2 linked regions of the Homo sapiens genome follow. The protein of the gene in region 1 purifies or fractionates together with the protein of each later gene. This does not show direct contact. Each region holds a gene or a part of one and is shown in the gene's direction. Other genes may lie near its edges.

Region 1 (12,132 bases):
TTTCCTACAATCGGACAAAGCCTTTATGATGGTTTTATACAAGGAAGCATAAAATCTCCACCCAAGAAATTTAGGGCTATGACTGGTATCTCCCTGTAGCCACCCGTGGCTTAGAACCTTAATCATGTGGTAGACTGAACATTCCAATTCTTTAAGCACCAGGCTTGTCGGGATTCAGAACACTGAAATGACATCCATATGCAGACAGAATTAATTGCACTGAATAATTTTTATTATTGTAACTAACATTTATTGAAGGCTTATTGTGTGCTAAACACTTGACAGTCATTACCCCAACCCTCTGAGATAGATACAATCGCTATCCAACTTAAAAATAATTAGAAAAATAAGATTAGACAGGGTAAATAATATGCCCATACTATCAGAATTACAAATGATAATACCAGGACTTGAATATAAAATGTCAGATCATAGTTCCTATATTCTTAACTGTTGCTAACAAAAATGTTTGACAAAGCCCCTGCCTGTGTTTGCTGCCTGAAGTGACCTCTTTATTCATTTCCCCCACAGCTTCAACAATTTAATTACACCTGGTTAAGACTTATTAAATGTGGAGAATGGTGTATAGCCCCCATCCCTGATAAAGGAGCCGTAAGGCTGCACCCTTGTGATAACAGAAACAAAGGGCTAAAATGGCTGCATAAATCAACATCAGTCTTTCATCCAGAACTGGTAAGCAAAAGATTGGTACCTCTTCTTTACCACAAATTTGACTTTTGATCAAATAGGACATAAAATTCTCATTGTCACCTTCCTCAGTCAGAAGTTTTGTGTGTTTGTGACCATGGGATTATGTAAAAGTTCATTCACAGAGATGCATGGATATCTTTCGAAAGTTGACAAGTCCTTTTTTTTTTATTTTTCAAAATTTATTTCAAATGAGTTATTTTAAATAGAAATCACCAAGTTCTTCTAGTTGCATTGCTATCATTTGCTTCAGTCAATCAACAACACCGAAAGTCAGGCTTAAAGGCTAGAACTGGTCCCCACTGGTCATCAGTAATGCTTATAAGGAGAGGATATGGGCAACACAGGAAGCAGCATGTCTCCTACAAGTCCTGCACTTTAGAGTGAATCTGGTTCCTCATTCTGCCCCCTTTCCATAAGAGACTCTTCCCATCCCCTGTGGTACCCAGAAACCGGGGCTTCTAAGGGTCTGCTGGAGCCAACTCTCACCAGCTCGCTGGAGCCACTTGTGCACACCCTTGCCAGCTTTGCATTTAATCATACCACATTGGTAGCTGGAAACTGGCCATATTGGGAGTATTTATACCACAGAAATTGGAAGATGTTACTGGATCAGGGATACTTTTCTGAAGGTCCAGTTGTTCCATTTACCAGAACATTCCTGGTCTACTGTATTCATTCTCAAAGTCCTCTCCATTTGTCCCAATTACATTTTAACAGAATACGGAGTCATAAGCCTTGGTGTAGGAGCTTGGGATTGGCGAGAATAGTCTCAGAATTGCCTTCTTAAATTTTCTACAATCTCTCCAGCAGGTAGCCACCAAATCTACTGTCTACAGTAAATATTTGGGTATTTGGAGACTCTCAGTTTGTCCTGGGCTATCCCCAAAGTAAGCACCTTTGCTTCCTTTAGGTGCCTCCGTTCCTTTTAACAACACAATGACTATTCTTTTCTCAACATTTTTCTTCCTGCTCAGAGCCAAAACTGGGGCCTGAGTAATGTATTCTCCAACATTTCTCCCATTAGATCTTCTCTGTTGTATTTCAATTCTTTCTGAACAGTTTTTTCTCTTTAGTAATAATGGTTATTATTGAGTTATTCAGAAAGATTAGGAATTATTAGCATATATGCCACTAATTTTATTTTGCATAGTGTTAGGAAATCCATAAACATGCAGTGTAGTGAATAACTTACATCTTACCTTCTCCCTGTGCCAAAGTCAGGAGGGAGGGAAGGAGAAAGGGGGGGATGTGGTAAGGAGAGAGAGAGAGAGTGAGAGAGAGAGAATATGAATAAGAACGAGAACTAAAACACATTCTTCATCTCCAGAATTGAATCTTGGGAAAGAGTTCAAGCATAGCAGTTTCTCTTAAGCGGTAAGCTGATTTGGTAAAGGAGGTAATTTAGTTAAGATAGCAAAAATTAGAAAGCCTTTTCCCTACCTTGTTTGTACCTATGACTTTGGAACATTTTACACAGCTGCCTTCTGTCTTGGGTTTCCCTTTTGATGTTACCAAATGTCCTGGAGATGAATAGCTTGGTGATCAGCTTTCTTCTTTTTTCAGTTTTTCAGTAGTTTTCATGCTATTGCTACTAGGTCTCCCATTATATGTAAGTCTTAAACAACAAGAGAAGTATAAAATGAGACTTCCTTACAAATCCTTGACAATACTCAAGCATCGTATTTCCAAAATCCTGCAAGGGTGACAATACTTTTGTAGCAGCAATCTTTAAAATAAATTATTATGAAAGTCACCCCTGTTTGATAACTTTTTAAAGTTTAAAAACAACATGTGTAATTAAGATTGTCTTTGTCATAGTCATACGTAATTAAGAAAATTTATAGATGAAAAAATATATAAGCCATTAGTAAGGTCTATCTAATTTATCTACCATTTCTAGGATATTCACTAAATATTAAGCAATAATATAACTTTCTTTAATGCTGTTGACTTTTTCCTAATCTGGATTTTGGACATCAGTTATTATGAATTGTCAGAGATTATGGTAAGGAGCTCATAAATAAAATACATCACTTCCAGAATTTTGTAATCCAAACTCACAAAGACACCTACTTTAAAAATTAATTAACTTTTTGTTACGGTATGTATTCTTTCTTTACCATCAATGAAGTAGTTATCATCTATCAAATCCAATAAATGTCATCTGTAATGTTTTCTCTTTAAAGAGTATAGTTCTCAGCCATATCATCAAGAAATTTTTCTTTTGCCTCCTGAGGACTTAAAAGTCTTATAGCTTGGTGGAGGATGATTACTTAGTCTGAGACAGAGACAAATTTAATACTTTTCAAAGTCTGTGTTTATGTTAATAATTTAGTTCAGAAGAATTCTTAAAAATCAAAAATATAACTGCCTGTCCATTTTTTTAATTGATTTTCATTTCTTCATATTGCAGTTATCAAATTCAGCCTGTGGCTCATTCCCAGCTCTTCTTTCTCTCCAGGTGAATCACATTGTTTTTGAAAACAATCAGCAATTATTATGCTTGGAAGGAAATTTTTCTCAAAAGATCCTGAAAGTAGCTGCCTGTGACCCAGTGAAGCCATATCAAAAGTGGAAATTTGAAAAATATTATGAAGCCTGAAGTGTAACTGATGTTTTTATATAGTAAACCCATTAAATACTGTGAAAATAACACTGAACTTGGAAACTATATTTCTCAGCGGTAGTTTAAATTTTCAATTTTAATAACATTTGAATGGAAGATTTTTTATAAATCACAATATTTGGAATACCAAAAGATGACTCAGGAAAACAGTCCAACATTGGACTGAAGTCCTTCTTCGGAACTGGGTGGCCTTTGAATTGCCTGCTTTCCACCCTATGCTAGACCTCATCATGCAAATTTCCCTGTGAAAGCTAACAGGTAACTGGAAATGAAGACAGAAGGACTTGAGAAAGCATGAGGATATTCCCAATGACTATGTTTGGTAATAATCAGCTCTTCTGGCCCACAAGTAGGAATGATCAATGAGAACTTAACTTAGTCCTTTATTTGGGGATTTTTTCATCAAACAAAAATTTCTTGAGTTCTTATGGCTAGAAGACCTCAGATGCCCACAGCTGTCACGTTTGTGAAATCCCTCCAGACTACATGCATGCTTACCTAACAGTTTGAAATAGTATTGATCTACTGCTGGTAACCCTGCTTGATGGCAGCATTTTGATCTAAATTACATAATGGTTTTTCCCAATCTGAATCAGTGGAAAAAAATTTAAGTGAGGAAGAAGAGGCCTTCAAATGCTTATTTAATTCTAGGTATGAACACTATTTCAGTTCATTTTGTGCTTTTAAAACTACAGTTTTAAAGATTTATGATACCAATAACTTCCTAGATTCATGTGGATTTTTTTTAAGGCAATGAAAAAAGGCTGGATTATAACACACTGTAGTAATCAAAAATGCATTTAAGCATTGAATGCACTCTAGTGCAGGGCCAAGTAAGAGGAGTTGAAATGAGTAAAGCAGAAATAGAGCTGCTGAAAGTTTCTTTTATATAAAAATAATAAAATACTACTTTAGATATAGTAGCATTCACAGGGATGAAATATGCGAAAAATGGGTTCTAAAATATTTCAAAGGGAAAATGAAGTGAAGGAAACATCATGAAAGGGGAAAGGAATGAGGTAAACAAGTCTTAGGAAGAGAGTTAAGAAAAAATTCCGCTGGACTTGGCCAAAGAAAGAAGGGGATCTAGTATCTCTATGAAGGAAAAAAGAGTAAAGCCCTCAGTGTGAACCCAGTGAGAACACTGACAAATTTGGGAAAAGTTAAATACTGATTTCATCCAAATAAAGCCTCTAATCTTAAGCATACCAATACTTTGGCATACCAGAAGACACCTTAGAAATCAGGATAGCCTTTGCATTCATTTTGGTAAGAAAACTGATGCTGAGAGGATAAATTACCTAAAAATCTTAAAACCCAGGCAAGTTAGTCAAAGAATCAAGATTAGAATTCAGGTTTCCAGAGACAGGGCTCATTCTAATGCCTCAGGTCACTGGCCCGAACAAATCTGCTTCACAGAATTCCTTAGAAAGAGATACACAATTCTTTGCTGGGATTGGGTCCCTGGAGGACAACCATACTATATTCTTGTTAATATGTTTTTTCTTTTTTTAAATTTAAACTTTTGTTCAGTTGAGATGATTGTGAAACTAGGTATCTTTCATTCTGACTCCTAGTTTAACATTTAATTTTGACTCCCAATGAGTTACGTAAAAGCAAAACTATAACTAAGAATGGGAAAAAGAACTATTTCTGCACATTTGTAACATATTTAAGATGTTTTCTTCATATAATTGAAAACTGCAGATGAGTAAGAGAATGACTAGGAAATGAGATACAGTTATATGACACATAATGATGTTTTAGTCAACAATGAACCACATATTTGACATTGGTCCCAAAAGATTATATTAATAATATGGTATCTTTAGTGTGCTTTTCTATGTTTAGACACACAAATACTCACCATGATGTTACAATAGCCTACAGTGTTCAATACAGTAACATGCACAAGTTTGTAACCTAGGAGCAACAGGGATTCCATATAGCCTAGGTGTGTAGTAGGCTACCTACACCATCTAGGTTTGTGTAAGTACACTCTGATATTCACACAATGATGAAATTGCCTAATGACACATTTCTCAGAATGTATTTGTGTTATTAAATGATGCATGACTCTAATTCTTTTCAAAACAGAGCCATATGGGGCAAGGGGGATGGGGGGACGCAAGTCAGTTGTCAAAAGACTAATTGAGTTACTGACAAACTGAACATGCTAGGTGCCTCATGTAATTCTTCATGTAACTAAAAAATGTTGAGAGGTTTTTTTCCCCCGGGTATATAGGCTCTCTTTTTATCCGAAAATAGTTTCCACAAAGAAGTCAACTCTGTTCTGAAAAAAAATGAATTGCATTTTGAATACACTTATCTTTGGGTATATCAACTAAAGGAAGTTGGATTTTTTTCCTTAACAGAAACTTCTGCAGTCCTCTCAGTTCACATCCTTTCTGACTTTACCCTGACAAACTTATTATATAAAGCTATATTTAAATCTATATTGTCAATATAACAAAGGATTGTTTTTGAACATCACAAATTTGTTCTTGGATAGAATTTTATACATTGCTTTTCATCATATATTTGCTCAGTTACTCTAAGAAGCAAGGAACTGATCACTAGTTGGGAATCTATATGGGCCTAAACTTGAGTGTATTGATTTATTATTACATCTACTACCAACATTTTCTTAAGCATAGCCTTCTAAATTTTTTCAGGAGATTAGAATAAAGGTATACATGCTACTCGGTCTTCTGGTAATTCTAGTGATAAACCTTTGGATGAGACAGGTCCTAATCAGCACTGAATTCTTCAATAGGAGGCTGTGTTACAGGAGCTACAGATTTTTCCCTGGATTAGCTTAGGTCATTGCCTTTACTTTAAAAAAAAAAAAAAAAAGTCTATGCATCTTGTTACCTTGAATACAAGGGTGGTCTTGATAATATTTGACAGCACTAACCAACTTACCAAGCCATCTAAGTGCTTCTGAGACTTTTCAGTTTGCACAATTTCTTTCTCCTTTTCAACAGTTACCCAGCGCTTCTGCCCTACTCTCTTGTAAGCTGACACAGTTGTTGTTGGTACAATCTTGTTCTATCACCAGCATCAAATTTGCTTAATACTGCTTGTTGACATCCCCTCAGCTGTCATTCACAGCAAACCACCATGTGCCATGATCACAATGTATTATTAGCTTCGCCACACTAATTTGGAAACATTCTTTTAGATATTAAAACACCTTACTTCTAGTATTAGTTTGGGACTGCAGAGGGGCAAAGATACCATTTACAGTATATAGGAGTCCAATATTCCCAACCAACCTTGATTTCATGAATGGCTTGTAATTATTTCTAGCAGGCACTCATGCAATAGAATAAGATTGAAACATGCCAGAGAGTACCATCTTTCTTTGTTTTAACATCTCTGATTGAATTCCTATATTCAGAATACAAGAAAAAAAATTTACCAACCAGGCGCAGTGGCTCACACCTGTAATCCTAGCACTTTAGGAGGCCAAGGTGGGTGGATCATGAGGTCAGGAGTTCAAGACCAGCCTGGGCAACATGGTGAAACCCCGTCTCTACTAAAAATACAAAAATTAGCTGGGCATGGTGGTGGGCGCCTGTAATCCCAGCTACCTGGGAGGCTGAAGCAGGAGAATTGCTTGTACCCGGGAGGTGGAGGTTGCAGTGAGCTGAAATTGCGCCACTGCACTCCAGCCTAGACAACAGAGCAAGACTCTATCTCAAAAAATAATAATAATAATTTTTACCTCAGAAGAAAGCCCCAAAATCTTGGATTAAAACAAAAAAATGACATTGGGTGATGGGAAAAAAGAAAGGAACTAATTATCATTGAGTGTGTGTAGGTACTATTTGTGTAGGTGCTATATGTGTCCCATCTCACTGATGGGTACAACTCATCAAATGACTCTCATTCTCCCTGTTATATGAACAAGAAGGATAACTCCCACATACAGATGAGGAATTTGGTAAATTGCCCAAGGTCATCCCACAAGTAAGAGATAAAACCCAGTTTCCATTTTATCTGGCTCAAAAAAAATTTCTCTCACTATACCATGCTGCTATATAATTAATTTTCTTCTTTACAAAGGGCTGTCATCTCAGGTGGGTGCATTTAAAAGTTTCTTGGTCTCAGATTACTGATGCCACAGTATTGAGATGAGATTGAATTAAACCCCTTTGGCCTCTTTTGGATGTTGTATAAACAGAAAAAAGAAGCATGGTCTCTCTCTCTCTGTGGTAACCAATTGATGTGTAGGTATAAACATGGCTACCCCCACATGTTTTGCTGTGATCTATCTCTTTGACTTCATGCAGAACCTATTCTTTTTCATCTCCTGGACCAAATGTGAAAGAAAGAAGTGGACATGTGGAGGATTCTTTCTCTGTGAATAATATTGAAAAAGCTCCATTTTCTGGGGAAATACCCATGGTTCATTGTCTGATGCCAAGAAAGAATTCAGGACACAGACACACATGAGGAGTGGGTTTAGGAGTGGAAAGTTTAATAGATAAAGAAGAGAGTGAGAAAGCTTCCTCATGTTGAGAAAGACAGTTGCTCAAGAGAGGGTTTTCTGGGTTTGGGGCAAGATTTGATTGATTTCATACAGAGGCTTGAGGAGGCGGTGATTGATATACATAGGGCCCGGGGATTGGTTTAACCAGGTATACTACTTACATAGCCGGTGAAAAGACTGGCCCTCCCACCCTAACCTTTTATTATGCAAATGCATCTTCTACCTGGCTGTCACCATGACATTTGCACACGTGGCTTCACTTCACCAGTGCCATGTCACCCACACACCTGGTGACAAGGAAAAGGGAGCAGGAATCACCATATTGAATGTGCCTGGCTTCCAGGTACAGCTGCTAGCTTTACATATGGGAGCCTCTAGCTTGCATATCTATACTTGCAACTTGACTTTTCAGGCTGCTTTTTGTTAGAAAATAAGTGGCTTGGGGGCTGCTTTTTATTAAAGGAAAAATCCACCGAGAACTATTTTACCCTTTCTAATGGCCTAAAATAAATTTTTAATGACTCCTGTATTAATATTACCAACCCTTGATCCCTCCAACCTTTAATCAAAGCTAGCAGATTGCTCATCTTGAACAGAAATAAAAAGTTAAAAAGTTGGAGTCCTTTAAAACACAAACCATGACTTTTTATTCCTACTCATTGTGTAGGTTGTCACTACTGTGCTTTTGCAACAACTTTTGCATGGGTTACTCAATAGTTGCTACAAGACAAAATGCCTTACAATTAGAAAAAAAAATTAACCAGAGATATTGTACAAAATATTTATTTTTTGACAGTTTTGAATAAGCCATATAAAGTATTATATATCCCTAATGAAGCTTAATGGATAGTATTCCAGGTGTTGGTGGTGTCTGTATCTCAAAGAAAGAAAAAAATAACATCACACTAAACAGATTTAATGCCTCTGTTTTCAACCTAATGGAACAATAGTTATCATTTCAATTAGAGTCGCTTTGCAAGTTTATGTGAATCTTTGCTTTGTAAAAACACATACAAAACACAAGGGAAAATTCTCATTTTCCAGCAAATACAGCAACTTCTAATATGCTGTTTCTAATAATGAGTCACCATCAAATAAGTAATAAATATTTTTTTCAAAAACAAGAGCTTTCTGTTTTATTATTGATTGACAGATATTTACCAGTTTAAGGATATTGGTCATAAGCATCTATATAATAAACCCTTTATATTAGATGTTAAATTAAAATTTTTCATAGCATGAATAGATTTTTAAGTGACCACTCAAAAACATAGCAATTTTTGTAAATATACTGTATGTGTGTGTATATATATATATATATATATATATTTTTTTTTTTGATGCTTTGATCTGGAAGAAAGAAATATCAAGAGTTTCTATTCACAACATAAAGAAAATAAAATGTTTTTAGATATTTTTAACTCTTTCAGGTGTATAGCTTTGTCTGCATCTGGCCTTCTGCACAAAAGTATCTCAAGTGAACTTACACTCTGGATACCATTTTCCAAACTTGAAGGAGTAATCAAGTTCTTAATTATCAGGGTGCTTGTTATTTAGTTGAAGATTACACACATGTCTTCTGCTTCAAACAACTACCCCAAATTTGCTAGTTTTATACATATTAGCTTAAAAACAAGAGAAGCCAAAGATTAAGTAAGTGAATTGTGTTAAAGATTGCCTGAAAACATTTGCTAAGGGGAGAATAAAACTAAAACTGTGGAGTATAAAGGATGTTGGAATTAAACATTTTTAAGTACTTTTTCTTTTGCATCTGATCGACTGAAGTTATTATAAAGAAGGAATCAAGTATGTAACTTTAAATTCTAGGTAAACATCCAAATTACTTTCTAAATTCATTTCCAAAATTCTCCTGTGCTGGCAGTTAGCTACTAGAGATCATCATTTGATTTTGTAGTTTGCCATGTTCTGAGTGAGTTCAGCTGCTTACTACTACCCATGTCATTGTGTTTGTATTGATTGCCTGGCTCAGTTATCTCATGTTCTTCATGAACTATATACACATTTTCATTGTCTTTAAACAATACTGAGTTTTGAAGTTAAGTAGAATATTGTAGGGGTTATCAGAAACCCATATTCATTGTGGTATGTTTCTGTCTGATACTTTAATATTGGTAAATATAGTTTTTGACATTGCATTTTACAATCCTATTGTTTTTTAGAGTGATGAAAGTTCAAGTTTTAAGAGAAGTGGTTGCCTTTCTCATACTGTCAAACATATTTCTTCTTTATTATACTCTGGTGCTTTATCCTTCTCCATAATTCTCTATTATTACTTATTTTAAATGTTTTCCCTATCACATTGAAAAACTTAAATGTCCGTTCTCCATTTGAAAATATGCCAAAAGTATGATCCCATGTAAATATGCAGAAACGATTGCTATGAAAATGTCAGCATAGTTTAAATGTATTACTCTGATGATTACAGAGATTTCTTCAAGTTGTTCGTGTTAAGATGCATCTTAAACATGATCTCAGTTCCTTAAAAAATGATAAAAATTTTTCATGTATATTACATATCTACCTACCAGAAATCCTTTTTACAATTTTATATACAATCATTTTAAGACCTTTTTGAAATAAATAATGCAAATGAACTAAAATAAAGTGTTCTCTTGATTTCTGAAGAGGTATTCATTAATTATCATAGTAGCTGCTGATATACAAGGATTCTTTCTAAAGTTTAAAAGGCAGCTAAACAAAATAAAGTCTAGAGACCAGAAATAAAGACACAAACTTTTATTGAGAGTAAGTCAGACACAGCAGTTCTTTATTTAAATTGTGGATAGTTTGGTAGGTAGGGGGAGAGAGAGATGGTAGCAAATTCTGTGCCTTCAATGTAGCATTATATGAAAGGTAGATTTTATATTGGCAGAGAAATAGAGCTATTATTAGTTTCTATTTATCTAGCAACAGAGGAAAACAAAAAATCATGTAAGAAATACCAGCATTTGCACAATAAATTAATTCTCCCTCTTCCCTGGTACCAGAGTCCTTACCACCCCTGAACTTTGAATCACAAAAGCTCAAGTAAACCTTCATGTGTAGCTACCAGTTTGTGTTCTTAATCATGTTCCCCCTGAGTTTCAAATATGTTAAAAATCCCCCATGCAATCTGAATCAGACCTTTGTCTTTCCTAGGTTACAAAGACTCAAATGGCCAACCATCACCATTATGTTACCTGAGGTCACTTAACTCTGTGGCTTTCAACTCTGTGGCTTTCAACTCTGTGGCTTTCGTGTAAGATGGCGGTATAGGGCCATGGACACCAATGCCAAAGAATAGTTTCAGGGTTTTTTTGCAAAAACATTGTGTCATCCATGAACATGAAGCATTTACCAACTAAACATACCCTAAAATAGTTTCTGTTGACTAAATCTTTCATAGTTCATTCATTGTCTGGTGAGAGCACAGAGCTAAGAGGACCAGCGTTAGCATATATTAGAGTCCCTTAAGAGGTACTTGCTTTGCCGTGCCACATAACCATAGGTCACCCACCTCTAGTTCTACAGGAATCCATCATCTCTGTTGGAATAACTCAAAATACAGGCTCTTGATGGTAGGTTAAAAACATGGTCCTGTTATGTGATAGATAACACAATACTGTGTTTTGAAGTTAAGTCGAAAATTGTAGGGGTTATCAGTAACCTAGAAAAGAAAACAGCTTGTCCATGTAGAAAGATTAGAGGATCTAAATTAAATTGGAAATTGTCCTATTGCATCAATCTTCTCCCTAACTTTATCAATAAAGACCTGATTTCCCTCACTTTATTCTGGAAACTGATATTGTAACACATGAAATCCATAGGTTGTATAGAATGAGGGTAACAGAACTTTTATGTTATCTGTTTGAAAGAATGAAAGGAGCACTGTAATCCTGAATTCAAATTGGAGTCTTGTAAACAACTAAATAATAGTATGTGATACTATGGAAATATAATATATGACCCGGAAGGATTAAAGAAGTTGTCATTAGAATATGTGGGATTTATGTTACACATAAATAAGCAGTCATCTAAGAGGACTAACATGGAGTTTTTCACAAAATGAAAAAGAAAGAAACAAAGGGTTGAATAGTACAATGAAGACTGTATTACATTCAGACAATAAGGAATTGTCTTTTTATTTGCAGGGCAAAACAAAATCTTTATCTGTGGTGATAGAAAGTTCAGGGTAATATATATGGAAGCATGAAATGAAAAATTGTGGAACAAACTATCTAAGAATATAAATATAGTCTCTCTTTTCATAAATATTCAATACGTTATTTGACACATT
Region 2 (12,132 bases), on another chromosome or scaffold:
AGGGAAGCACATATAAGAGAAGGTAAAGAAATATTCCACTTGCAAATCGCGGTACCTGTGGATGAGAGACATAGACGAGAGAGTGAGATGGCCTGGTTTGCCCTCTACCTCCTGAGCCTTCTCTGGGCTACAGCTGGGACTAGTACCCAGACCCAGAGTTCATGCTGTGAGTATGATGTTTTTCCAAGGAGGTCAGGGAAGCAGTTGCCCTGGGGAAGGGGCTGTGACCTCTGACACTGAGTGGTTGAAAATAGCAATCACTATAGGAATTCCAAAATGGGTAAGTCTGAGTGTGATTGTGTGCTGTTCATCCTTCCTGACTTAATAGCATAAGTTCTTTGAGAGACAAGTCTATATGTTTTTTATTAAGAGAGATGGGGCCAGGTGCAGTGGCTCACACCTGTAATCCCAGCACTTTGGGAGACTGAAGCAGGAGGATTGCTTGAGCCCAAGAGTTCAAGACCAGCCTGGGCAACATGGTGAGACTCCATCTCTACAAAAAAAATAAATAAATAAAAATAAAAAATTAGCTGGGCGCAGTGGCATGCACCTGTGGTCCCAGCTACTCAGAAAGCTGAGGTAGGAGAATCGCTTGAGCCCAGGAGGTCGAGGCTGCAGTGAGCTATAATCACACCACTGCACTCCAGCCTAGATGACACAGCAGCACCCTGTCTCAAAAAATCAATAAATAAAAATAATAGAGATGGAAGTACTACTGCAGGAATAATGGTTGATGGTACAAAGACAGACACTCAGTGGCTATTGTGACCAGACACCACTACATACTAGTGAGAGATTTTGGTACTCACTGAGGATAAATTATATCCCAAATCTTTAATACTCTTCATGAAAGAGTAAGGAAAAAAATGAATGCAAGGAAATCAGTGATTTCCAGGAAAGTGATAGAAACTATGAGAAATGTCATGAGCCATATTGCTTGAAGTTACTAAATTTAAAAATCACTTTCTTAAGGATATGGATTATTTGAGAAGATGTAGAAACTAATTGTCCTCAAAAGTAAAATCTCACCATTTTCTCCATTTCTCTTTAGTGACTTAGGACACTAATGCTAATCAAGTGTTCTCCTAAAAGGCATCAAAGATGGCCAGGCGAGGTGGCTCACGCCTGTAATCCCAGCACTTTGGGAGGCCAAGAAGGGTGGATTACCTGAGGTCAGAAATTCGAGACTACCCTGGCCAACATGGTGAAACCCCATCTCTACTAAAAATACAAAAATTAGCCTGGCGTGGTGGTGCACACCTGTAATCCCAGCTACTCAGGAAGCTGAGGCAGGAGAATCACTTGAACCTGGGAGGCAGAGTTTGCAGTGAGCCGAGATCGTGCCATTGCACTCTAGCCTGGGCAACAAGAGTAACACTGTCTCAAAAAAAAAAGAAAGAAAGAAAAAGCATCAAAGACACGGGGATAATGTTTTTGAGAAGGAATGAGGGTTAGAAGGTGAGTAAATGGCTTTCCTCTTCTCAGCCGTTCCCTCAGCACAGGAGCCCTTGGTCAATGGAATACAAGTACTCATGGAGAACTCGGTGACTTCATCAGCCTACCCAAACCCCAGCATCCTGATTGCCATGAATCTGGCCGGAGCCTACAACTTGAAGGCCCAGAAGCTCCTGACTTACCAGCTCATGTCCAGCGACAACAACGGTGAGACATCTGAGCCGCTCGCACTCTCCCTGAATCTCACACATCACATACCACCTCCAGATTCCAACTCAGCGTCCTTCCCACCCCAATGCTGCCTCTGACTGTAAATAAACTACCCAAACACCTTTCCTTACATACCTGGAAGGTACCTGGAAAGAAACATGTGTGAAGTCAGAGCATTCATGGAGGAGGTCAGTAAAGCAGGGAGAGCTCTGGACTAGACGTCGAAAGAGCAGCCTTCTGGTTCTGGCTCTGCCACGTCATAACTCTGGGATCTGAGACAAGTCACTGGATACTGCTCAGCCTCACCTTGCAGATGATTGTAGTAACAATAACCCTACTACTACTAATAGCAATGATAATAATAATAAAATCTCTGTTCTGCCTATCTCCCAGGAGCTGCCTGCAGGCTCAAGTTAGATAAAGTTTAAATTATTTTGCAACTGTAAATTTCTGTATATAAATCTATATGAGTATTTTGCTGCTTTTCTAATCAAATACCAGGGATTCTCAAATACCAAATACTAGAGTCATCAAGTTACACAGAGGCCACTAGATTAAATATTCCCTTACGTATTCTTCCATATTTTTTTCTTTGGAAAGACAGATCAAAGAACTGCTCATATTATTAAAAAGTCAAAATGCTCTAGATAAAAAGCAGAGAACTCATCACTGGCTCCTGGAGAGCTGTCCCCTGAGGATGTCTCTGTCTAACCGTTGTGTTCTCTTCTCTGCAGATCTAACCATTGGGCAGCTCGGCCTCACCATCATGGCCCTCACCTCCTCCTGCCGAGACCCTGGGGATAAAGTATCCATTCTACAAAGACAAATGGAGAACTGGGCACCTTCCAGTAAGACCTGACTGGAAGGGAGAAAAGAGTCAGGCATATGGTTTTACCTAAGAATTTTAAACCCAGAAAGGAAAAGGGTGGGGGTGGAGAGAAAGGCAAGTTAGGGAAGAGACAATGTATCCTTCACTCTGGTCCTTCTGATAATCCAGACCAGAAAGATTCATTTCCAATCCAAAATGAACTAGAAAAGGTCATGATCCCAAGGACACAAGCTTGTCCAGCCATCACCTGTCTAAAGACACAGAGTCATCCCTTTTATTCTTTGCAGATGCCTGATGACATTCTTTTGAAAAACACTGAAGTTGCTCTTTGCCTATGCTGTGTCTCTCTTTGGGGGCAGGTTTTCTAGCAATTTCCTTTTCAAAGGCTTGGCTTTTCCTTCTTTGCAAATGTCCTCATCGTGGTGACTGTGAGTCTGATGAAGGTTCTCTATCCCCTTCGGAGGCCCCAACGCTGAAGCATCAGCCTTCTATGGGCCCAGTCTAGCGATCTTGGCACTGTGCCAGAAGAACTCTGAGGCGACCTTGCCGATAGCCGTCCGCTTTGCCAAGACCCTGCTGGCCAACTCCTCTCCCTTCAATGTAGGTGAGTAGGTCACCACTACCCCGAGCTGGGAACATCAGAGGCATCGTGAACTGAATGGTGGAGCTGGCAGGGAAGTGACAAAGGAGAGCGTCCCATGGAGGAGGAGCTAAGGATGTGAACGTGCCTGTGGATGGGAGATATTTACCAGATGTTTGTTGGGCAGGTGAATTGAGGAGTAAGTGAAGGAAGAGGGGGTAGTATTATGTAGAAACAAGGACAATTGATAATACTTGATATGTCTGGCAGCTACAGAATCTCCGCTGGGAACAATAGTAATGCCATTCAAGTCAGAAGTTCTTCCCAAATTAAATATGAATGTCTTGCTTCAGTTCTCCTCTGCATCCTCTCTTTAATCACTACTGATGCTCCCACACTCCATTCTTTTCGATGCTTCTCCTCATTACATCCAAATATCCTCTCTCCATTAAACAGCTACTCTCGGAACCCTAACTCGTGATATTTCCCTTCATGGCAACTCGGGGACCACCTTGCGTCTTTGTTCTGCAAGCATATGGCTGCTTGTGAATAGAAGCTTTTCCCTCTACAACATCATGTCCTCCTTCTGTCCCCTTCTATGGATAATGATCCTTCTCTGTGGGGGCCACTGTCACAGCCCGCATTCATGATCACCTTTTCTCCTCTGCCAACTCTCTAAGCAATAGTATTATCTCAGGTTTTCACTCCCTTATGCATGCCCCATCAGCAACCTCTCTTGTTTCAGTTTCTGTCAGACAAACAGGTGAACCACTGCTCTAGGATCCTCCCTGGGGGTTAAGAACAGACTGGTCTCCCTTTCACATCTGGGACCTCACACATTTCTGGGGCATCTCTGCCTCCAAAAATTTGGACTTATTTACTTCTGGTTGTCAGTAACACTAGCACCCTTAACGAAGTTATGCAACTTTCAAATGGAGATTTGGCCCTGCTGCTTACTTAATTTTTCTGAGCCTCCATTTTTTGTCTCTTAAATGGAGATGATTACAGGTACTGTTTCACAGGTTGTTCTGAGGAGCAAATAAAATCATGGAGCCAGAATATAATAAGCACACAATAAATGTTAGCTGTTCATATTGCTGTGATGGTGACTATGGTGATCTTATACCCTCTGTCATTCACAGACACAGGAGCAATGGCAACCTTGGCTCTGACCTGTATGTACAACAAGATCCCTGTAGGTTCAGAGGAAGGTTACAGATCCCTGTTTGGTCAGGTACTAAAGGATATTGTGGAGAAAATCAGCATGAAGATCAAAGATAATGGCATCATTGGAGACATCTACAGTACTGGCCTCGCCATGCAGGTAAACACGTGCTGGATGCTCTTGGTTGGGTTCCTGCCAATAAGCCTGGATTGCAGAATCAAGAGGCCAGGCTTCTACTAACATCTCTGTGAAAGTCCAGCTAGTATGACCTGAGATATATTCTTTGTGGTGCCTGGGCCTCAGTTTCTCTACTGGTAAAATGCAGGTAAGTGTTAATTCCTCCCTACCTCCTATGTAAAGTGTGAAAACAAATCTATATGAACTTGTTTCTCTTTCTTGGGAAAAAAAATGAAACAAATAAATCAAGAAATATATTAATTTATTATTAATAATGATCAGTTTATTTGTAATAGTTACAGACTATTACAATTTTGATGTATAAATAATAAGAATATTAAAGCAGGCCCTCTAAAAATATACAATTTTCTGATGCAATCTTACCAGCCAAGTGTTCTTTTTCAGTGTTTTACCTTGATCTAAAAATAGCAAGTTTATACTCAAAATGATTAAGGAAAATAACCTAAAGTTGACCCAGCCTCACAAAAACCCATAGTAAATGGTAAAGCAGATCTATCTGTCAGCCAAGTCCATATTCAATTCTGTGCTTTCACAGCATGCATTCCCAGGCTTGGATTCTGTAAGATGTGTTTGGTATTCATAGTTCCAAATCCAACAACCCACCCTACCCTAGTTGATTAGGGCAGCAGCCTCCATAGAAGACAGATGCACCAATGGTGGTGGGCAGAAATAACCAACTAGAATCAGAAACTAGCAACCATCTGTGGCTGAATCCTCTAATCCCAACTAAGAAGTTTGAGCTCCAGTGTCTCAAAATGTCCTATGGGGATTAATAGGACCAGGGACTCTTCAACTCAGAAAGCCCACTAAAGGGAGAATCATGGAATGGTGATGCCAGCCCTAAACCTAACATAGTTGCGGACTATTAGAAAGAAATTGTCTCCTGGGGAAAACAATGGAGACTAGTATTGAGATTTCATACATTAAAAATTAGAAAAGGATATAAGCAGCCTAAGAATTGGTTCATGTTAAACATAAGAGCAAAAAAAAAAAAATTTCCACTTCAATGGACCACATATAGAAGTGACTAATAAAAATAGAGTTCATTTCTATGTCACAGTCAAGGAGACTTTGTCATAGAACAAAACCCTGTTTTTTCCATGGCTGAATTTTACAAGAACATTCCCAGTGCTCTGGTCTAGAAGCTTTTTGGAAAGAAAAAGGCAGTCTGGAAGAGATATAAAAGATGGTTTGGGGATTTTTTTTTTTTATGTGTGACTCTCTAAAAATAACCTTGCTTCAATTTATCACCAGACAGTGAAGTGTTTACTTTTGCTAACTTGGTTTGTGAATTCTGTTTGGATTTTATCACCTGCCAAGTACACTTTGATAAGCTGTACCTGGGAATTAGAGCTTTTCCTATCAAAAGGCAGGACCCTGTCTACATCCAAATACCACAGGCCATGTGGATTTCTTGTCAGAATACATAATCTCTCCCTACCCTTTTTACTGCCTCTATCTGGAACTTATTTAGGCATCCTGAAATCTGGAATCAATAGGTGTCTAATATATAATATTTTCCTAATCTAAAATATTCTGATATAGAAAATCAAAGGGCTCTGGAACTATCACAATTTAGGTTTGACTCCCACACCTGCCACCATCTCAGACAAATATTGAATTTCCCCAGATTTTATTTTCCCCATAATAATAAGGTTGCAATTAGGTTAAATAAAATGTGGTATGCAAAAAAATGCATGCATAATGTAATGCTTAACAATTGTTCAAGATCTGTCTCAGCAGAGCAGTGATGCTAGTAAAGTTCCTTTTCAGCCTTTGTTCACCTTCTTCCAAGATGTCAGTACACTTCCAGTGGCCCAGGCCACACTCTTCCCTACCCAAAGACGCTCATGAGGCATTTCCTCTGTTCCAGAACTTCTCATCTTTCTTCCATGAATATCCTATTGCTTTCAAGTTTCCTCTGATAGGCGCTTATCTTGAAAAGGGATCTGATAGGCCAGGCGTGATGGCTCACACCTGTAATCCCAGCACTTTGGGAGGACGAGGCGGGCAGATCACTTGGGGTCAGGAGTTCAAGACCAGCCTGGCCAATATGGTGAAACCCCATCTCTACTAAAAATACAAAAATTAGCCTGGTGTGCTGGCAGGCACCTATAATCCCAGCTGCTCAGGAGGCTGAGGCAGGAGAATCACTTGAACCCGGGAGACGGAGGTTGCAGTGAGCCAAGATTGCACCAATGCACTCCAGCCTGGGCATCACAGCGAGACTCCATCTCAAAAAAAAAAAAAAAAAAGAAAGAAAGAAAAGAAAAAGAGAACTGATAAACTTCTTGATGGAAAGTTATTAATGACGTCTAACCACTTAATGTGTTATCCTCTCTAGAGTGTTGGCATTGGTGATGTGTAATCCCAATGAATATACCTTGCTTAGTGAAATTTGGGAGGTGCATATGACAAGTGGACAAGATATTGTTGCTGAGGAGCACCCACCTGATGGCCCTTAAAGCAACTGCCTTGTAAAGTGGCCTCTGTCCAGAGCCATGCTTCATAGATGCTGAGGTTCAGTGATGGTTGTCCCTGTCACAACTGCCCAGTTGTGCATACTGACCCTAGCTGAGACAGCCGTTTCTGACTCCTCTCTCTCTCTTCTCCCATTTCCTATTCCAAGCTTCAGGTGAACCAGTCATTAACAATCTCAGCCTATTAACATGCTCTGGTGGCCATAATCGCACTGTAAAGGAAGGGAGGTGGTAATGACAGCTTCCACATCACACATCACACATCACGAAATGCTTTTATACATTAGCCCCTTGGAACCGCAAATGACTCCCCCAACAATAGACAGAAGTTATTATTTCTATTTTATTCATGCGATAGATAACGCAGCAAAATAGGTGAATGGCTGAATGGCTTGGTGTATTACTCAAGACTCATTTTGCAAGTAACAGAAACCCAAATCCTTTTAGCTCAAGAAAAAAATGAGGATTTACTATTCACATACACTGGGAAGTCTAGGGCTGAATTAGGTGGTTTCAGGAATAACCAGAATAAAGGGCTCAAATCATGATATCAGGAGCCACTCTTTTTTCATCGTCCAGCCCTGATTTTCCTCATTCTTTCCTGCTGCAGGGCTTCTTCAAAGTGGCTGAGAAAGATGGTCACTAGCAGCTTACCGTTTATTTGCATGGTCCCAGTTGAATAACCTTAGCAGGAAAAAAAAATCTTTGGGTGTCCCAATGTCTGTATGTCGGGGAATGATTCTGATTAGTACATGTGTCCACCAATCACTGTCATCAAGGGGATGGTGACCACCATCAGCCCAGTCCAGGTCATGAGTCCATCCTGGGCCAGGGTTGTGGAGCCTCTGAGAGTCCTGACACAAGCACAAAGTGAGGGAAAAGTCCATCAAAGAGGGCACATGGCAATATGAAACAAGGGGTCTACTCCGTTTATGTGGCTAGACTGTCCTAGGCTAAAGCTCCCTCTGGAGCCCAGCTCTCACCCTCACTCTACATTCAAGAGTCGTTCGTAAATATGACTGCCTAATAGTGTTCCCTGGATCTGATCATTGCACAGTTCTGTGTCTGCTGTCTGACAGACACTGTGCTAAGTGGTGGGGACATAGCATTGAAGACAAATGTTTTCCAAACCTTACATAGCATTGGCTTTGCATTCTGGGTGACTACGTGATCACCATGATTAGTGATCAAGTTTATCTCTTAAGACATGTAAGAGCCAACTCTCAGCTATGCCTAATTACTCTTTCTCTCTCTTTCTGTCTTCCTTCCCAGGCTCTCTCTGTAACACCTGAGCCATCTAAAAAGGAATGGAACTGCAAGAAGACTACGGATATGATACTCAATGAGATTAAGCAGGGGAAATTCCACAACCCCATGTCCATTGCTCAAATCCTCCCTTCCCTGAAAGGCAAGACATACCTAGATGTGCCCCAGGTCACTTGTAGTCCTGGTAAGACATCCACCTCTCCTTATGTCATAAAGCAGCAACTTATGCCAGAAATGACATGTGGATCAATGTTAAGTGGCATATAGGCTTGTAATGTCCATTATTCCCATGTGGGCAGAGTACATCTGACTCCCAGTCCTTAAGAGTGTGTGCTAGCACACAGACATACCTTCCTGCACTCAGAACTCAGCCCCATATCTACTTCATTCAGCATATATTTACCTAGCTCCTACTATGTGCAAAGCATTTTGTGGGATACTAGAGGTAGAAGAAGCTCCATGGTCCCAGCTATCAAACAACATATAGCTTCATTTATTCATTTCACAAATGTACCATCAAACACTATGCATATCTTATCATATCTGCCTTTCACAAAGTCAGAAGACAGATGTGTAAACAAAAACTACAATATTTGGGACAATCGAGTAAGTATTAAATAGAAGTTAAAGCCACACACAGTGCAAATGCCAAAAAGAAAAATAGTGACCAGTTGTTGATTTTGTTTGGGAGGCTTCAGAGAAGAACAGAATTCATATTTAAATCGAGCCTTAACGATCTAAATATGAAAGCTCGATGCACGCAATATATCAATGAGATGGAGTGGAAACCTAGCATGCCACTTTTTAATTAAAAATATCTTTATTTTATCCAATTATGCATATAATTGAAAGACACTAAAAATTCAAACATTACAGAAATATGCATTTGGAAAGTGGAGGTCTTGCATAAAAACTTATTACTCCAGAGATTACTAGTGTTTGGTATGGATTCCTCAAACTCTTTTTTTTTAATAAAATGCTAACACAAAGCATCATTCCTCTTGCATTGCATGAACTTCCTAAGACAAGAAGCAATTAATAAGTTTCTCGTCTATCTCAATGCAGAATGTGGAGACCAAAATCAAGCAAACTGATCCCAATCCTACCAAAAACTACCACATTCACTCAACCCCTTAGGCTGCTTCCCAGTGATGTCCCAACCTTAACAAGGTGGCCATGGAGTTTTTGCCGGAATTCTATGCTAGTTGTCCAAGTACTTTGTTAAATGGTATGAAACTCACTACTTTCTCAAAATGTCTTCTGGGGTAAGTTGCCAATAACAGAGATTTTGCACCTATGATACAAACCCCATAATCTTTGACAAATGTGGCCTCTTTGCCCTTCACAGATCATGAGGTACAACCAACTCTACCCAGCAACCCTGGCCCTGGCCCCACCTCTGCATCTAACATCACTGTCATATACACCATAAATAACCAGCTGAGGGGGGTTGAGCTGCTCTTCAACGAGACCATCAATGTTAGTGTGAAAAGTGGGTCAGTGTTACTTGTTGTCCTAGAGGAAGCACAGCGCAAAAATCCTATGTTCAAGTGAGTATTACAAATGTCATTCATCATTCTCTCAAGGCCTGATCTGAATTCCCATTTTTTATCCATCCTGTTTTCCTAATTTTTTTCCTTTTGATAACAGATTTTTATTTAATAGCGCTTGAGCAGCTTTCAATCTAATAAATAGGTAAGGCTCTCATGAAAACTTAAATCATATAAGTCAACATATGATGAAGTTTTAAAAACAAAAATTCAGAGGAGATTCGAAAGTCCATTGCAGAGTAGAACAGGCAAAAGAGACTTTGTAGCTTTGAAACACAAAGAATAGGTACTATTTAGGAAGATGTGGGAAGAGGTAAGTCCAGAAAAAGAAATGGCCAGAACAGGCCGGGCGTAGTGGCTCATGCCTGTAATCCCAACACTTTGGGAGGCCCACGCCTGTAATCCCAGCACTTTGGGAGGCTGAGGCATGCGGATCATCTTAGCTCAGGAGTTTCACCAACATGGTGAAACCCCGTCTCTACTAAAAACACAAAATTAGCCAGGCGTGGTGGCACGTGCCTGTAATCCCATCTACTCGGGAGGCTGAGGCAGGAGAATCGCTTGAACCTGGGAGACGGAGGTTGCGGTGAGCCGAGATCATGCCATTGCACCCCAGCCTGGGCAACAAGAGCAAAACTTCATCTCAAAAAAAAAAAAAAAGGAAAAGAAATGGCCAGAACAAAGCATTTGCGATAAGACTGAGCAAGGAATTTGGGGCCAATGAATAGGCCAGGTGGACATACCAGGTTGGGTGACAGTGTAAAAGTCTTGAAATACCAGGTTCAGGAGACTGAACTTCATTTTGCAAGTTTTTGAGTAAGAAAATCCACTTGGTAAAATGTTGCTTAGGTCGTGAGAATAGGAGACAAGGCTAAAACATAGGACATGACTCCAATAATGGAGGTGTGAAGTGACGATGACTTCCTCTGGGATACACGGACCCACACCAAGGCTCTGTGAGTGATGGGACATAGAGGTCAAGAGAAAGAAGCTTCAAAACTATTGATTAAAGGGTCAAGAAGAAAGAATATCTTTCAAAGAAAAGGATTAAATTCCTTAGATATGTTTAATGGTAGGCATTTGAAATAGGAACATTAGAAGGCTTTTGGCGGTATAGTCCAGGCACAGTGGCTCATGCCTGTAATTACAGCACTTTGGAAGCTGAGGCGGGTGGATCAGTTGAGGGTAGGAGTTCGAGACTAGCCTGGCCAACATGGCGAAACCTCATCTCTACTAAAAGTACAAAAATTAGCCAGGCGTGGTGGTGCGTGCCTGTGGTCCCAGCTACCCAGGAGGTTGAGACGGGAAGATTGCTTGAGCCTGGGAGGTGGAGGTTGCAGTGAGCCAAGATCGTGCCCACTGCTCTCCAGCCTGGGAGACAGAGTGAGACTCTGTCTCAAAAAAAAAAAAAACAAAAAAAAGGAAGGAAAGAAGGAATTGAGAGAGAGAAAGAAAGAGAAAGAAAGAAAAAGGAAGGAAGGAAGGAAGGAAGGAAGAAAGAAAGAAAGAAAGAAAGAAAGAAAGAAAGAAAGAAAGAAAGAAAGAAAGAAAGAAAGAAAGAAAGAAAAAGAAAGAAAGAAAGAAACAGAAAGGCAGGCTTTTGGAGGCATAGAGGAAGTACTAGGAAAAGAGGTCAGGACATGCAAAAAATAAATTGGACAGTCATCTCTTAGAGGTGATGACCTAAGTCAAGAACCCATGCAGTAGATAGCAGATACTTGCACCCAATAAAACCATAAGACATATTTAGTTATTCTCATTTTACAGATAGAACCCTTAGGCCCAAAGAAGTTAGTAACATTCCTAAGATCACATAACATGTAACTAATAGAGTTGAGAGTGGAACCCAGGTTGGACTGAATCTGATGCTCATGTTCTTTCCATGCCCCTCTCAAGGTAGGGGAAAATACAGAAATAAATCACAGAGGAGAAAATTAACTTTTAGGGCATGTTTATAGTTTGCAAAAAGAGGAAGCAGTAAAGAAACATGGAGAAGTCTAAGCTATAGGAGGAGAGGAGGAAAAATGCCAAGTCATGGAAAGGAAAAAAGCATCTTTTCTTTTTCAAAGAAAAGATGATCCAAATTCTTCAGGAAGATATCAAGAAGGAATACTGACAAAGGCTAAGGAATTGACAACTGAGTGATACCACGTGGGTATCTATTCCACCCGGTTCTGTTGAGCACATTGTGTCTGCTGCTTACTGCACGACTCCATAACTTCCCTAACTTCCATAGACAGGTCAGGATAAAAATTGCACTTCAAAACTATTTAATTTTTTTTTTTTTTTTGAGACAGAGTTTTGCTCTTGTCACCCAGGCTGGAATGCAATGGCGCGATCTCGGCTCACTGCAACCCCCACCTCCCGGGTTCAAGTGATTCTCCTACCTCAGCCTCCTG

Evidence for each region.
Region 2: the proteins of GALNT5 (region 1) and CBLIF purify together in Homo sapiens (affinity purification with mass spectrometry; 2 studies listed by BioGRID and IntAct, with this or other methods). This does not show direct contact.

The regions. Positions count from the first base shown.
Region 1 is NC_000002.12:157,308,036-157,320,167, forward strand, and holds the end of GALNT5 (polypeptide N-acetylgalactosaminyltransferase 5), read left to right. Parts: intron 1-531; coding exon 532-693; intron 694-3,124; coding exon of another isoform or gene 3,125-3,172; coding exon 3,173-3,313; 3' UTR 3,314-10,456; downstream 10,457-12,132.
Region 2 is NC_000011.10:59,833,409-59,845,540, reverse strand, and holds the start of CBLIF (cobalamin binding intrinsic factor precursor), read left to right. Parts: upstream 1-41; 5' UTR 42-87; coding exon 88-166; intron 167-1,485; coding exon 1,486-1,662; intron 1,663-2,399; coding exon 2,400-2,513; intron 2,514-2,957; coding exon 2,958-3,098; intron 3,099-4,216; coding exon 4,217-4,398; intron 4,399-8,189; coding exon 8,190-8,367; intron 8,368-9,531; coding exon 9,532-9,733; intron 9,734-12,132. UniProt on the Homo sapiens protein: Promotes absorption of the essential vitamin cobalamin (Cbl) in the ileum. After interaction with CUBN, the CBLIF-cobalamin complex is internalized via receptor-mediated endocytosis.